Linked DNA regions of Homo sapiens: region 1 is linked to region 2. A link means that fine-mapping ties the variant in region 2 to the expression of a gene that starts in the linked region. Tissue or cell type: Th17 cells. Region 2 holds a variant in brackets; the other region holds the start of a gene. All regions are shown on one strand. Distances are from middle to middle.

Evidence for each region. PIP is the estimated chance that this variant, and not a neighbour inherited with it, causes the effect.
Region 1: it holds the start of RTN4, and the variant in region 2 is fine-mapped to the expression of RTN4 in Th17 cells (Schmiedel 2018, PIP 0.95).

Annotation. Positions count from the first base shown.
Region 1 is chr2:55,047,119-55,055,233 of GRCh38, forward strand. RTN4 (reticulon 4) reads right to left here and starts at 3,333. Exons shown (of 9, transcript NM_020532.5): 1 at 2,627-3,333. The coding sequence starts at 3,182. RefSeq lists enhancers at 2,339-3,151, 3,114-3,163 and silencers at 2,654-2,773, 2,914-2,973.
Region 2 is chr2:54,695,304-54,703,418 of GRCh38, forward strand. No RefSeq gene overlaps it. Among named protein-coding and RNA genes, the nearest start is that of SPTBN1-AS2, 19 kb to the left of the region's middle. RefSeq lists an enhancer at 3,127-3,842. The variant GA/G (reference allele first, on the strand shown) is at 4,579.

The DNA of each region.
Region 1 (8,115 bases), 350 kb after region 2:
GAGTTCAAGACCACCAGCCTGGCCAACATGGTAAAATCCCGTCTCTACTAAAAATACAAAAATTAGCCAGGCGTGGTGGCAGGCGCCTGTAATCCCAGCTACTCGGGAGGCTGAGGCAGGAGAATCACTTGAACCTGGGAGGCGGAGGTTGCAGTGAGCCAAGATTGCGTCATTGCACTCCAGCCTGGTGACAAGGGGGAGACTATCTCAAAAAAAAAAAAAAAAAATTCCTGTTTAAAAATATATTTCATATTTTTCTCTTACCTCAGTTTCCCTCAAGTATGTCTTTTTCATAAAGAAAAAGGAAAAGATTGAGTTACTCCTCATCTTCTAAGACCTTTAATATGGCAATTAGTGTTTTGAGTAGTATGGGGGTGAGGAGTCCGTCAACATCAAAATATTACTAAAAAGCATCGCAATTGGCTTATTTTCCCCCATTATGGAGAAGTGAATTGAGAAAAAAAAAAATCAGACTGATTTTCTTTTAAGAAATGAATCACCTCTAACATCCTACAAGGCTATGAAGATTTCCAAGCAGGCAGTTACACTACTTGATTCTTGACCTTTTATACATAAAGGTCCTACTGCTAGTGGGACACTTTCTGTCCCCGAAGTAGCAAGTACTTATGAATGTATCTAATATTATGCATTCTCAATCTCTAACAAACGTGATTTTTTTCGCTTCCAAAATAATTTCCCAAGATGAAAACGGCAATAAAACAACGTGACTAATAATAACATACAATCAGGAACTTAGGTGAATGAAAGAACTTGAAAACTATTTTACAGACCATACATAGTCATGCCTCGCTGAACAGGGGGAACAGGATCTGAGAAATGTATTGTTAGGCAATTCTGTCGTTGTGCAAACCTCACAGTATACTTACAGAAACCTAGATGGTAGAGCCTACTACATACCTATATGTAGGCTATATGGTATAATCAATTGCTCCTAGGCTACTAACCTATACAGGATGTTACTGTAGGCAACTGTAACACAATGGTATTTGTGTAGTGTTTATCTAAACATACCTAAAATAACACTGTACAAAGGATTAAAAGATGGCACACGTGTGCAGGGCACTGGCCATGAACAGAGCTTGCCAGCCTGGAAGCTGCTGTGGACGTGAGTAGTGAGTGAATGTGAAGGCCTAGGACATTACCATGTACTACTGTACAACTTACAGACACTCTACGGTTAGGCTACACTAAATTTATCTTTAGATATATTTTTTCAATAATAAATCAACCTTAGCTTACTGTATCTTTTCTATTTTATAAACTTTTTGGCTCTTTTGTAATAACGTTTAACTTAAAACACAAACACATTTTAAAGCTATAGAAAAGAAATTTTATATTCTTATTCTATAAGCTTTTTTCTATTTTTTTTTTAACTTTTGTTAAAAACTAAGATACAAACGCATTACCCTAGGCCTACACAGGGTCAAGATCAAGACGTCGCTAGGCGGCAGGAATTTTTCAGCTCCATTACAACCTTATGGAGCCACCGTTGCAAATGCGGTCTGTCCTTGACCTAAACGTCGTTATGAGGCACGTGACCGTATTTTGATTCTGTAACCTAAAACATATCCTTCTGAAAAACAGTATTTCTAACCAATATATATGAAAATGTCTGTCTCAAAACATTTCTCTGTGTCTCATGGTAAATCTGCCACGAGTTCAATTAGCCAATTCCTGGCAAGGAATCCACAGGTTTTCCCTTCTTTAGGAATGTCAACCATTTTGCCTTTTATTTTTTTCTGTAAGATTCAATTATGATGCACTAAGAGGCTGGGCCAAGTCCACACTAACAGCAATTCCTCCGACCCTGCAGCTGAAACCCCGGCAGAACTACGCCCCCTCGAACACAATGCCTAGATCCCCTTTCCCTGGCTCGGTTTAGCTGGTGGGGAGCAGTCCACATCACACCCCGGGGAGCTGGGCGGTGGCAGGACTTTACCAGAACTCTCTCCTTCCCATTTCTCCACGCACCACACCACTGGAGGCGCTCTCCCTTCACTGCGGTTGGGTCAATGTGGACGTTTTCCACTCGGCCAGCTCCCCACGAGCACAGGAGGAGGGGGAGGGGAAGCGCAAAGGGGCCACCCACGCCAGCCAGGAGGTGAGGAGGGAGCCCGGGGCAGAATGCAGGCCAACAGACCCGCAGCAAAACTGCACCTTTTCCAAAGGAGCAACCCAGACGGGTAGACAAAAGCACCTCCTAAAAATATCTGGGTGCCAAGGCCTTTCCTTCCTCACCTCGAAGCCCAACCAACCCGATAAATCCACAACCCTGGCTCTCGGGTATATACCCGGCTCCTACTACGGGTGGGTGCCTAACTTCCGAGAATCCGTACGCTGGGCATCACACAGGGTGAAAGTGGGAGCCGGGAGCGGTGCACGTGTTCCCCGAAACCAAGACGGACAATAAGAACAAACCCGGGCTCCAAGGGCCGCCCCACCCTTCTCCCCGCGCTTCCAACCAGACGGGGCGCCATCGCCCCGAAGTCCGCAGACAAAGCGCCCTCGGGGCGGAGAGGAGGGACCAGCCCAAAGCATCTGGGGCTGCACACAAAAGAGGGAGGGGCGCGAGGGGCGGCGCGAAGCGAGAGGTCGCGGCACTCACCCACTGAGCCCGAGGAGCCCCTGCGCTTGGGCGCGGCCGGGGTGGAGGGGGGCGCGGCGGGAGCCGGGGCTGGCGGGGTCCACACGGGCTCTGCCTGGGGGCTCACGCTGGCCGGGGGAGGAGGGGGAGGCCGGGCCGGAGGCTCGTCGTCCTCAGGGAGCTTGGAGGGCGAGACTGCGGCAGCAGACAGCGGGGATGGCGCGGGCACGGTCGACGACACCGGGCTCGGGTCCCAAGACGGCTGCCGCTCCGGGGCGACGGGGGGAGCGGCCGGCAGGGGTCCCCGGGGCGCCGGCGGCACGAAGTCATTTCCGAAGTCCATCAGGGGCGCGCCGGCGGCAGGGGCGGTGGGCACTGGGGCCGCGGACAGCCCGGCGGCGGGCTTCCTCTCCAGCACCTCCAGCTCCTCCAGGTCTTCGTCCTCGTCCTCCTCTTCCTCCTCCTCTTCTTCCTCCTCGTCCTCGGGCTCCCTCACGAACTGGTACTTGAACGCGGGCTGCGGCCGGGGTGGGCTGTCCGAGGACGAGACCAGAGGAGACTGGTCCAGGTCTTCCATGGCTGGAGGGTGGAGATGATGCTGCAGCTGCTGCCGCCGCCGCCGGGGCCGCGTCTCAGAGCCGCGGGCGGTTGTGGGGGTTGGGGAGGACTGAGAGGGGCTGGGCCGACTGAGCCGAGGGACCTACTGTGGTGACGGCTCCCGGAACAATGAGACTGCTCCTCCTGCCTCCGCGCCGGTGATGCGCCACCCGCCCTGTCCCCACTTGCCGCCGCCGCCCAGATGAGCTAGGAGTGAGGCCAGCGGACTCTCCGCCCAGTTTGGCGTGACTCACCCTCCCCAGGGGAGGGCAGGGACTGGCGCGGGAGGGAGAGAGCCAATCGGCTACAGGATCGAGAAGATAGGCGACCAGCCGGGCCAACAGAAAGGGAAGGAGATGAAAGTGGGTGGGGACTACGGCACTTCCTCTCTCTTACCGGCTGGGATTGCGTTCAATGGGCGGGGCTGAGAGCTGGGAGCTCCACCCCCACTTTGGGTAACCGTGAGTTGGGGTGGGGTCTTGGCCTTGCCCGCAGCTGGCGTCCGTATGTCGTTAGAGCACTGGGAAAGGGGGCGGGCTGCTGGCTGGGAGGGGTCGGCGCGGTTTCTGGCGCGCCACCGGAAGGGCGTTATCCTGGGGGAACTGAGAGTGGAAACTTTCCTCCCGGGAAAGGAAGAAACCCGACTGGAGAAAGGTATTAGCGGGACTGGGAAGTGGGCCCTAAGGATTTTTAAAGATTTTTGAAATAAAAGATTATTTGTTCACTCAAAGTTCCAAACTACATCACTACTACTACCACCCTAAAATAAGAAAAAAATTGTTTTTTGACAGTTAGGCTCACTCAGTCTAAACCGCAGCCCCCGAAATTGGGAGGAAAACAGCTGTGCTGAATTAACTAGGGATCTGGGGCCGACCATTTGAAAGTCTGCTCTTCTTCCAAAGAGAGTTTGGGGCCTTGCCTGCTGGACTCTTACATGGTAAGAGAGTGAGTCACCCAAAGAGAGAGGCAGCGGGGAGACAGGAAAGTGGAAATACAAAGATGCCTTGGAAAGCTAATTTGGTTCACGTTACATTTCAGTCACCTTAGGTTCATGAGTCAACATTTCGGATGATTCAGGCTTTCTGGGAGTCAGGAAGCCCCATAGTCATTGGTTTGATATGCAGGAATAAGCATGATCCCCATTCCACTTTTTATGAGGCTGGAGAGTTTAAAGAGAGTAGTTGCAGAACATCTTTGTAAGAATCAGGATCCTTTTATCTTTCTGATTTACCTTTCAAAAATATTCACTGCATGCCTACTCTGGAGGCCCTGGAGAGAAGAGGATAACCTGCTTTCAAGTTGCTCAAAGTCTAAATCTGTGCTGTACCTGACAGGTACTGGCTACTTGTGGCTACTGATTGAACACTCGGAATGTATGTAGCTAGGCTGAAATTAGATGTGCTGTAAGTGTAAAATGCGCACTGGATTTCAAGAATTAGTACCTCCGAAATGTAAAATATCTCAGCTTTCCTGTTGACTGAATGTTGAAATTGATATTTTGGATATATTGGGATAAGTATAATATTATTAAATTAATTTTACTTGTTCCTTTTAAAGCAGCTTCTAGAGTTTTTTAAATACATAATGGCTCACATTATATTTCTTTTGGACAGTGCTAGTCTAGATTAATAATTAAGAAAGTTTGATTGCCATGGGGAATCACTGGCAAATTCTTAGCTCCAACTAATTTATATTACTGTGGCTTAATTTGGGTATTAAAAAAGAAAAGTAAGAGTTGGAGGGAGGGATAAATAGGTGGAACACAGAAGATTTTGGGGGCAGTGAAACTGTTCTGTATTATCCTGTAATGGTGGATACATAACATTATGCATTTGACAAAACCCACAGGACTATACAACAGAAAGAGTGAACCCTAATGTAGACTATTGACTTTAGTTAATGATATATCAATATCAGTTCATCAGTTGTAACAAATGTACCACCTCAATGCGTTATGTTAATAATAATAGAGGAAACTGTGGTTAGGGGGCAGGAGTGAGAGTGTATGGGAACTCTGTACTTCCTGTTCAACTTTTCTGTAAACCTAAAACTGCTCTAAGAAATAAAGTTTATGAACCTTTAAAAAAGGAAAAGAATAAAGATTTCCTGGCAATGTTACTTGATTGGGTTAATTATCAACAATATATTCAAGACCTATCACATTAATTCCACGGAGAACTGGCTTTATTTGTGCAAAACGTTTGTGACTTGCTTTGAGTTTGGTGTTATTTTTTGGAGGGGTTGGGAAGAGTAGGAAGAGAGATGTATTGATGTAGAATTTTGGGGCGGGAAGTTAATGCCAAATGAATTTAAACAAAACAAATTTCTACAATGGTGACTACAAGAGACATATTTGAAGTCTTTGTCAAATATTTATCAAAAATTATAAAAAATTTGCCTGATTTTCAACCAATTGCATAAACATACAAAAATATACTAACAGTATTTTATGATACGACCTTTTCTATTGTCACAGTTTAGCTATCAGCAGTCTTCCCCGCATGCTTTTCCCACTATGACTGTTCTGAAATTCCTTAATGATAAGTTTCACAGGGCCTTTATGTATGTCTAATATAAACAGGACTTACGTTATTTGCAAGTTGTTTATATGATATTTCTGCATTCATATATCCCTGTACCTACTACTACTAAAATAGTCTCAAAGGAGTATCTTTAATCAAAGTTTCACAAAAGAATAATTATAAATAGTAGATTTACAATTTTAATAGGAAATAGCAGTTAATATTGATGCAATAATATAAGCACTATCTGGTGCAGAATAAAAATAAATTTTATTAATCTCAGTGACTTCTAAAAAAATAAGTATTTGATAGATAGATGAGTAAAGAGTTTGCCCAGCTTTCATAGAATGATCAACAAAGCAAAAAGAAAGGAGGCTGTTGCTGCTCTACCACAATTAAAAGTAAAGCTAGTTATACATTGTTGTAACTAGATGTAAATATCACTATCACTAACAAAATTCTGGTGGACATTTGAACCAGTTAAAAGAAAAATGCACATTCTAGATACTAATAATAGTTTTAAAATAATTATTCAATAATTTATATTTGAAAATAGCTTATCAGACGGGCACCGTGACTCATGCCTATAATCCCCGCACTTTGGGTGGCTGAGGCGGGTAGATCTCTTGAGGTCAGGAGTTTGAGACCAGCCTGGCCAACATGGTGAAACCCCATCTCTACTAAAAATACCAAATTAGCAGGGCATGGTGGTGCACACCTGTAACCCCAGCTACTTGGGAGGCTGAGGCAGGAGAATTGCTTGGACCTGAGAGGCAGGGGTTGCAGTGAGCCAAGATCATGCCATTGCACTACAGCCTGGGTGAAAAGAGCGAAACTCCATCTCAAAAAAAAACAAAAAAAAAAAGAAACAAAGAAAAGAAAATACCTCATCAGAAGTAGAAGATTAAAGTTTTCAGATACCACTGGTTAGTAGCTGTTCTCTCTGAGAACACTACAAGAGATCCAGCCTGCTAGAATCATAGAATCTTAGGGTTGGGAGAACTTTGGGAGGTCAGCTTAACCAATCTCTCTTCCATTATCATGGTCTCACTTATAAGCAAGAGCTAAATAAAGTGTACATATGGACATAGAGTTTGGAATGATAGTGGAGACTCAGAAGACTGGAGAGAAGGAGAAGGGATGATGAGAAATTCCTTATTGGTACAATGTACATTATTAGGGTGATGGATACACTAAAAGGGTGACCACTATGCAATCAATACATGCAAAAAAATTACACTTGTACCCATAAATTTATACAAATAAAAAATTTAAATAAAAAAATTCTTAAGAGTACCAAAATGATGTTTCAGTCTCTTTTAAATAGAAAGATTGAATGTAATTCAGAGGTGCTCTTGAACACAGGCCAGTCATTTTCAGTAGGTGAAAAAGCTGTGGTTGACTGCTCTTGAAACAGGTGTGTCTGTAATCCACCTCTCATCTTTCTTATCTTGCTTAACCATCCCTTTTGTGCTTTCACTTTATACTTTTTAATAAGAGAAATATTTGTTGGGTATACAGTCTGCACCAGGCCCTGCTCAAGACTTTGAAGAATACAGCACTACGCCAGACACAAACGTGCTTGCATGTTTTCAGTAAGAGACCTATTACTTGGGGAAATCACCCCTTCCATTTCTATAGTATTATACCTTATTTGCAGAATGCTAAATTGACACCTAAACTGGTATTTGTAGAACAAGTTAATTGTCCTTGAATTATGTATGCCCCTCAAAAGAGTTAAAAGGCGTAGGATGGGTATACTCTTGCCTACATATAGCAGGACGTGAACACCAGAGTGGGTTCGGTAAGAGAAGAAAGATGAGAGGTGGATTGTAGAGAAACCTGTTTCAAGAGCAGTCAACCACAGCTTTTTCACCTCTGAAAATGACTTGCCTGTGTTCAGGAGCGCCACTGAATGACATCTGACCTTTCTATGTAAAAAAGACTGAAATATCATTTTGGCACCCTTAAGTGAAAAATTAACAGCGTGCTAAGTTGTTGTCCCTATCATTTTGCTGGGATTTTAGATTTTATGAAATGTACCATTTTGTGAAATGCAGTTCATGGTTCTGTTCAACATCTTAACATATTAAATCCATTCTGTAATAAGAATAGAAATATAAATGTAAGATCAACTTCTTCAGTCATGTTAGTTAAGCATTGACAGTTAGTGTTGGATCTAAAATAAAAATGTTAAGTCCCAAAAAGAAATCCCATAATAAGCAAGTGAAAGTCATAATTAAAACTGAACCAAATCTTTCTCCTTTAACTGTTTTCGGTCCCCTGCATTATTAGAAATTAGGCTATTTGAATATGCATTGTTTCCCTGGAGAAATTTATTTTGATCTAGCAAAAAAATTATTTCAGATACGAGAAAGTTAATTTTGATCT
Region 2 (8,115 bases):
TGGTGACTATGGGGAGAGACTCCTTCTGCTCAAGAAAAGTGAAGGGAAAAGCAAAGGGAACTTTGTCTCGCACCTTAGGTAGCAGCTCGGCCACAGTGGGATAGAGCACAAAGTGGGCTCTTGTGGTTCTCGATTCCAGGACGTGGCAATTAGACAGCATTTCTGGACCTGCCCTGGGCTAGAGGGGAGCCCACTCCCTTGAAGGGTGTATCTCAGGCCAGGCAGCATTCACCACAAGCTGACTGAAGAGCACTTGGGCCTAAAGGGAACTTCAGCAGTAGTCTGGCAGCACTCCCCTCTGGGCTTAAGGTGGCAGTAGCCATAGGATGAGAACTCCTCTGCCTTTGGAAAGGGGAGGGAAGAGTGGGAAAACCTGCGTCTTCTGGTTTGAGTGCCAGCTCAACCACAGTACAACAGAACACCAGGTAGACATCTAAGGTTTTTTACTCTAGTTCCCTGATTCTAGGATAAAACCTCTGGACCTACTCGGCCTGGGGGAACCTGCCACCCCAAAGGGAAGTACATAAGTCTGGCTGGCTTTGCCACCTACTGAATGTAGAGCTCCAGGGCTTTGAGTGAACATAGGCAGTAGTCAGGGAGTGGTTACAGCAGGCCTTGGGTGAGACCCAGTGCTGTGCTGGCTTCAGGTCTGACCCAGCACAGTCCCAGTGGTGGTGGCCACAGGAGTGCTTGTGTCACCCCACCCCAAGCTCCATGCAGTTCACAACAGAGAGAGACTTTATTTGTTTGGAAGAAAATAAGGGGAGAAAACAAGGGTCTTTGCCTGATAATCTAGAGAATTCTTCTGGATCATATCCAAGACCATCAAGGTGGTACCTCTACGTGTCTGTAATAATCAGACCATTTCTGGGCTAGAGGTGCCCCCTAATGCAGCTACGGCTTAGATCACAACACCTAAGTATTTTTGAATATCTGGAAAGCCTTTCCAAGAAGGACTGGTACAAGCAAGCCCAGGCTATGAAGACTACAATAAATACCTAACTCTTCAGTGCCCAGACACAGACAAACATCCACAAGCATCAAGACTATCCAGTAAAACTAAATAAAGCACCAGGGACAAATCCTGGAGAAAAAGAGATATGTGACCTTTCAGACAGAGAATTCCAAACAACTGTGTTAAGGAAACTCAGAGAAATTCAAGATAATACAGAGAAGGGATTCAGAATGTTATCAAATAAATTTAACAAAGAGATTAGTAATTTTTAAAAAATAAAGCAGAAGGCCAGATGCGGCAGCTCATGCCTGTAATCCCAGCACGTTGGGAGGCCGAGGCGGGTGGATCAAGAGGTCAAGAGATTGAGACCGTCCTGGCCAACATAATGAAACCCTGTCTTTACTAAAAATGTAAAAATTAACTGGGCATGGTGGCGCCCACCTGTAGGCCCAAGCTACTCAGGAGGCTGAGACAGGAGAATCACTTGAACCCGAGAGGCAGAGGTTGCAGTGAGCTGAGATGGCACTGCACTCCAGCCTGGCAACAGAGTGAGACTCCATCTGAAAAATAAAATAAAATAAAATAAAAAATAAAGCAGAAATTCTACAGTTGGAAAATGCAATTGACATACTGAAGAATGCATCAGAGTCTTTTAATATCAGATTGATCAAGCAGAAGAAAGAGTTAGTGAGCTTGACAGACTATTTGAAAGAAGATTTTGTCACAGGAGACAAAAGAAAAAGCAATAAAAAGCAATGAAGCCCACCTACATGATCTAGAAAATAGCCTCAAAAGGGCAGATCTAAAAGTTTCTCCTTTACAGAGGAGGTAGAGAAAGAGAGAGATGGGGGTAGAAAGTTTATTCAAAGGGATAATAACAGAGAACTTCCCAAACCTAGAGAAAGATATCAATATCCAATTATAAGATGGTTATAGAACACCAAGCAGATTTAATCCAAAGAAGACTATCTCAAGGGGTTTAATAATCAAACTACCAAAGGTCAAGGATAAAGAAAGGATCCTAAAAGCAGCAAGAGAAAAGAGACAAATAATATATGGAGCTCCAACACGGATGGCAGTAGACTTTTCAGTGAAAACCTTACTAACCAGGAGAGAGTGGCATGACATATTTAAAGTGCTGAACGAAAAAAGCCTTTACCCTAGAATAGTATATCCAGTGCAAATATCCTTCAAACATGAGAGTCAAATAAAGACTTTCCCAGACAAAAGCTGAGGGATTTCATCAACACCAGCTCTGTCCTGCAAGAAATATTAAATGGAGAACTTCAATTAGAAAGAAAAGAATATTAATAAGCAATAAGAAGTCATCTGAAGGTACAAAACTCACTGGTAATAGTAAGTATACAGAAAAACACAGAGTATTATCACAGTAAACTACTCAAGTAGAAAGACTAAATGATTAATCAAAAATAATAACTGCAACAAATTTTAAAGACACAGACAATACAATAATATATAAGTAGAAACAACAAAAAGCTACAAAGCGAGGTGGGAGGACAAAGTTAAGGTGTAGAATTTTTATTAGTTTTCTTTTGCTTGTCTGTTTGTTTGTTTATGCAAACAAAGTTAAGTCATTAAAATAAAGGGTTATAGGACAGTATTTGCAAGCCTCATAGTAACCTCAAGTCAAAAAACAAACAACAAATACATAAAAAATAAAAAACAAGAAATTAAATCATACCACTAGAGAAAATCACCTTCACTAAAAGGAAGACTGGAAAAAAGGAAGAGAAGACCACAAAACAACCAGACAACAAACAATAAAATGACAGGAGTGAGGGCTTACTTATCAACAACAACACTGAATGTAAATGGGCCAAATTTGCCAATCAAAATATGCAGAGTGACTGAATGGGGGGAAAAAAAGACCCAATGATCTGTTGCTGACAGGAAACGTACTTCATCTGTAAAGACACACATAAACTGAAGACAAAGGGCCAGAAAAAATTCCATACCAATGGAAACCAAAAAAGAGCAGGAGTAGCTATACTTACATCAGACAAAATAAATTTCAAGATGAAAACTATAAGAAGAAACCAAGAAGGTCATTATATAATGATAAAGTGGTCTATTCAGCAAGAGGATATAATAATTTTAAATATATGCCCTCTCCCTCTCCCTCTCCCTCTCCCTCTCCCTCTCTTTCCGCGGTCTCCCTCTGATGCCGAGCCAAGGCTGGACTGTACTGCTGCCATCTCAGCTCACTGCAACCTCCCTGCCTGATTCTCCTGCCTCAGCCTGCCGAGTGCCTGCGATTGCAGGCGGCGCCACCACGCCTGACTGGTTTTCGTCTTTTTTCGGTGGAGACGGGGTTTCGCTGTGTTGGCTGGGCTGGTCTCCAGCTCCTAACCGCGAGTGATCCGCCAGCCTCGGCCTCCCGAGGTGCCGGAATTGCAGACGGAGTCTCGTTCACTCAGTGCTCAATGTTGCCCAGGCTGGAGTGCAGTGGCGTGATCTCGGCTAGCTACAACCTCCACCTCCCAGCCGCCTGCCTTGGCCTCCCAAAGTGCCGAGATTGCAGCCTCTGCCCGGCTGCCACCCCATCTGGGAAGTGAGGAGCGTCTCTGCCTGGCCACCCATCGTCTGGGATGAGAGGAGTCCCTCTGCCCGGCTGCCCAGTCTGGGAAGTGAGGAGCGCCTCTTCCCGGCCACCATTCCGTCTAGGAAGTGAGGAGCGTCTCTGCCCGGCCGCCCATCGTCTGAGATGTGGGGAGCGCCTCTGCCCGGCGGCGACCCCGTCTGGGAGGTGAGGAGCGTCTCTGCCCGGCCGCCCCGTCTGAGAAGTGAGGAGCCCCTCCGCCCGGCTGCCACCCCATCTGGGAAGTGAGGAGCGTCTCCGCCCGGCAGCCACCCTGTCCGGGAGGGAGGTGGGGGGTCGGCCCCCGCCCGGCCGGCCGCTCCGTCCGGGAGGGAGGTGGGGGGCGCCTCCGCCCGGCCGCTGCCCCGTCCCGGAGGTGGAGGGCGCCTCTGCCCGGCCGCCCCTTCTGGGAAGTGAGGAGCCCCTCTTCCCGGCCACCACCCCATCTGGGAGGTGTACCAACAGCTCATTGAGAACTGGCCATGATGACGATGGCGGTTTTGTGGAATAGAAAAGGGGGAAAGGTGGGGAAAAGATAGAGAAATCAGATTGTTGCTGTGTCTGTGTAGAAAGAAGTAGACATGGGAGACTTCATTTTGTTCTGTACTAAGAAAAATTCTTCTGCCTTGGGATGCTGTTGATCTATGACCTTACCCCCAACCCTGTGCTCTCTGAAACATGTGCTGTGTCCACTCAGGGTTAAATGGATTAAGGGCGGTGCAAGATGTGCTTTGTTAAACAGGTGCTTGAAGGCAGCATGCTCGTTAAGAGTCATCACCACTCCCTAATCTCAAGTACCCAGGGACACAAACACTGCGGAGGGCCGCAGGGTCCTCTGCCTAGGAAAACCAGAGACCTTTGTTCACTTGTTTGTATGCTGACATTCCCTCCACTGTTGTCCTGTGACCCTGCCAAATCCCCCTCTGCAAGAAACACCCAAGAATGATCAATGAAAAAAATAAAAATAAAAAAATAATTAAAAAAAATAAAAAATAAAAAATAAAAATAAATAAGATTAAAAAAA[GA/G]AAAAAATAGAAATAAAAATAAATATATGTACAATCAACACTGGAGCACCCAGATATATAAAGTGAATATTTTTAAAGCTAAAGGGAGAGATAGACTCCAATATAATAATGGCTGGAGACTTCAACACCCTACTTTCAGCATTGGGCAGATCTTCTAGATAGAAAATCAGCAAAGAAACATTGGACTTAATCTGCACTATAGACCCAATGGACCTAATTTATATTTACAGAACATTTCCACTAACAGCTACAGAATACACATTCTTTTCCTCAGCACATGGATCATTGTCAAGGAGAGACCATATGTTAGGTCATAAAACAAGTCTTAAAACATTGAAATAAAATCAAGCATCTTCTCTGATCACAATGGAATAAAACTAGAAGTCAATAACAAGAGGAATCTTAGAAACTATACAAACACATGGAAATTAAACACCATGCTCCTGAATGACCAGTGGGTCAATGAAGAGATTAAGAAGGAAAATTCAAAATTTCTTGAAACAAATTATAATGGAAACACAACACGCCAAAATATGTGATATATATGAAAAGCAGTTCTAAGATGAAAGTTTATAGCTATAAGTGCCTATATCAAAAAAGAAGAACTTTAAATAAACAACCTTATGATAGATGTTAAAGAACTAGAAAAGCAAGAGCAAACAAAATCCAAAATTAGGAGAAGATAGAAAATAATAAATATCAGAGCATAAATAAATGAATTTAAAATGAAGAAAACAGCACAAAATATCAGTGAAACAAAAAGTTGTGTTTTTTTGCAAAGATAAACAAAATTGGCAAACATTTTGTCAGACTAAGAAAAAAAGAGAGGACCCAAATAAATTAAATCAGAGATGAAAAAGGAGACATTACAACTGATACCCCAGAAATTCAAAGGGTCATTAGTGGCTACTGTGAGCAACGATATGCCAATAAATTGGAAAATCTAGAAGAAATGGATAAATTCCTAGACACGTACAGCCTACCAAGATTGAACAATGAAGAAATCCAAAATTTGAACCGACCAATAACAAGTAATAAGATCAAAGCCATAATAAAAAGTCTCCCAGCAAAGGAAAGCCCGGAACCCGGGGGCTTCACTGCTGAATTCTACCAAACATTTAAAGAACTACTACCAATCCTACTCAAATTATTTCAAAAAGTAGAACAGGAGGGAATACTTCCAAACTTATTCTACGAGGCCAATATTACTCTAATACTAGAACCAGACAAAGACACATCAGAAAAAGAAAACTATGGGCCAATATCACTGATGAATATAATTGCAAAAATCCTCAACAAGATAGCAAACTGAATTCAACAACACATTAAAAAGATGATTCATCATGACCAGGTGGGTTTCATTCTAGTGATGCAAGAATGGTTCAACATATGCAAATCAATCAATGTGATATAGCATATCAACAGAATGAAGTGTAAAAACCATGAGATCATTTCAATTGATGCTGATAAATCAATTAATAATAAGTCATTATATCAATTGATGTTGATAAAATCGAACATCCCTTCATGATAAAAATCCTCAAAAATCTGGGTATAGAAGGAGCATACCCCAACATGATAAAAACCATATATGACCGACCAACAACTAGTGCCATACACAATGGGGAAAAACTGAAAGCCTTTCTTTTTGATCTGGAACGTGACAAGGATGCCCACTGTCACCACTGTTATTCAGCGTAGTACTGGAAGTCCTAGCTGGAACAATCAGACAAGAGAAAGAAATAAAGAGCACACAAATTGGAGAAGAATAAGTCAAAATATCCTTGTTTGCAGATGATATGATCTTATATTTAGAAAAACCTAAAGACTCGACCAAAAAACTATCAGAACTCATAAATAAATTCAGTAAAGTTGCAAGATACAAAATCAACATAGAAAAATTAGTAGCATTTGTAAATGCCAAAAGTAAACAATCTGAAAAAGAAATCAAGAAAGTAATCCCATTTATAACAGCTACAAATAAAATAAAATACCTAGGAATTAACCAAAGAAGTCAAAGATACCTACAATAAAAACTGTAAAACACTAATGCAAGAAATTGAAGAGGACACCAAAAACTAGAAAGAGATTCCATGTTCATGGATTAGAAGAATTAATATTGTTAAAATGTCCATACTACCCAAAACAATCTACAGATTCAATGGAATCCCTATCAAAATATCAAGGACGTTCTTCACAGAAATAGAAGAAAAACAGTCCTAAAATGTATATGGAATCACAAAAGACCCAGAATAGCCAAAGCTATCCTGAGCAAATAGAACAAAATTGGAAGAAACACATTACCTGACTTTAAATTATAGTACAGAGCTATTGTAAACAAAATGACGTGGTACTGGAATAAAAACAGATATGTAGATCAGTGGAACAGAACAGAGAGCCTAGAATAAATCCACACATCTACAGCAAACTTGTTTTCAACAAAGGTGCCAAGAACATACACTGGGAAAAGGACAGCCTCTTCAGTAAATTGTCTGGGAAAACTGGATATCCATATGCAGAAGAATGAAACTAGACCCCATCTCCCTATCTCTTGCCATATAAAAAATAAAATCAAAATGGATTAAAGACTTATATTTAAGACCTCAACCTATGAAACTACCAAAATAAAACATTAGGGAAACTCTCCAGGACATTGGACTGGGCAAAGATTTCTTGAGTAATAACCCACAAGCACAGGCAACCAAAGCAAAAATGGACAAATGGGATCACATCGAGTTAAAAAGCTTCTGTACAGCAAAGGAAACAATCAACAAACTGAAGAGATAACCCACAAAATGGGAGAAAATATTTGCAAACTATCCATCTGATAAAGGATTAAAATCAGACTATATAAACAACTCAAACAACTTCATAGGACTAGTCTAATAATCCAATTAGAAATGGGCAAAAGATCTGAATAGACATTTCTCAAAAGAAGACACAAAAATGGCCAACAGGGATATGAAAAGCTGTTCAACATCATGGATCATCAGAGAAATGCAAATCAAAACTACAATGCGATATCATCTCACTCCAGTTAAAATGGCTTTCATCCAAAAGTCAGGTAATAACAAATGCTGGCAAGGGTGTGGAGAAAAGGGAACTCTTGTACACTGTTGGTAGGAATGTAAATTAATATAGCCAAAATGGAGAACAATTTGGAGGTTCCTCAAAACAATTTGGAGTTTCCTAAATATAGAGCTACCTTATGATCCAGCATTCCCCCTCCTAGGATAAACCCAAAAGAAAGGAAATCAGTGTATCAAAGAGAAATCTTTACTCCTATGTTTATCGTAACACTATTCAAAATAGCCAAGATTGGGAAGCAACCTAAGTGTCCATCATCAGATGAATGGATAAAGAAAATGTGGTACATAGACACAATGGAGTACTATTCAGCCGTAAAAAAGAATGAGATCCTGTCATTTGCAAGAACATGAACGGAACCGGAGGTCATTATGTTAAGTAAAATAAGCCAGGCACAGAAAGACAAACTTCACATGTTTTCACTTATTTGTGGGAGCTAAAAATTACAA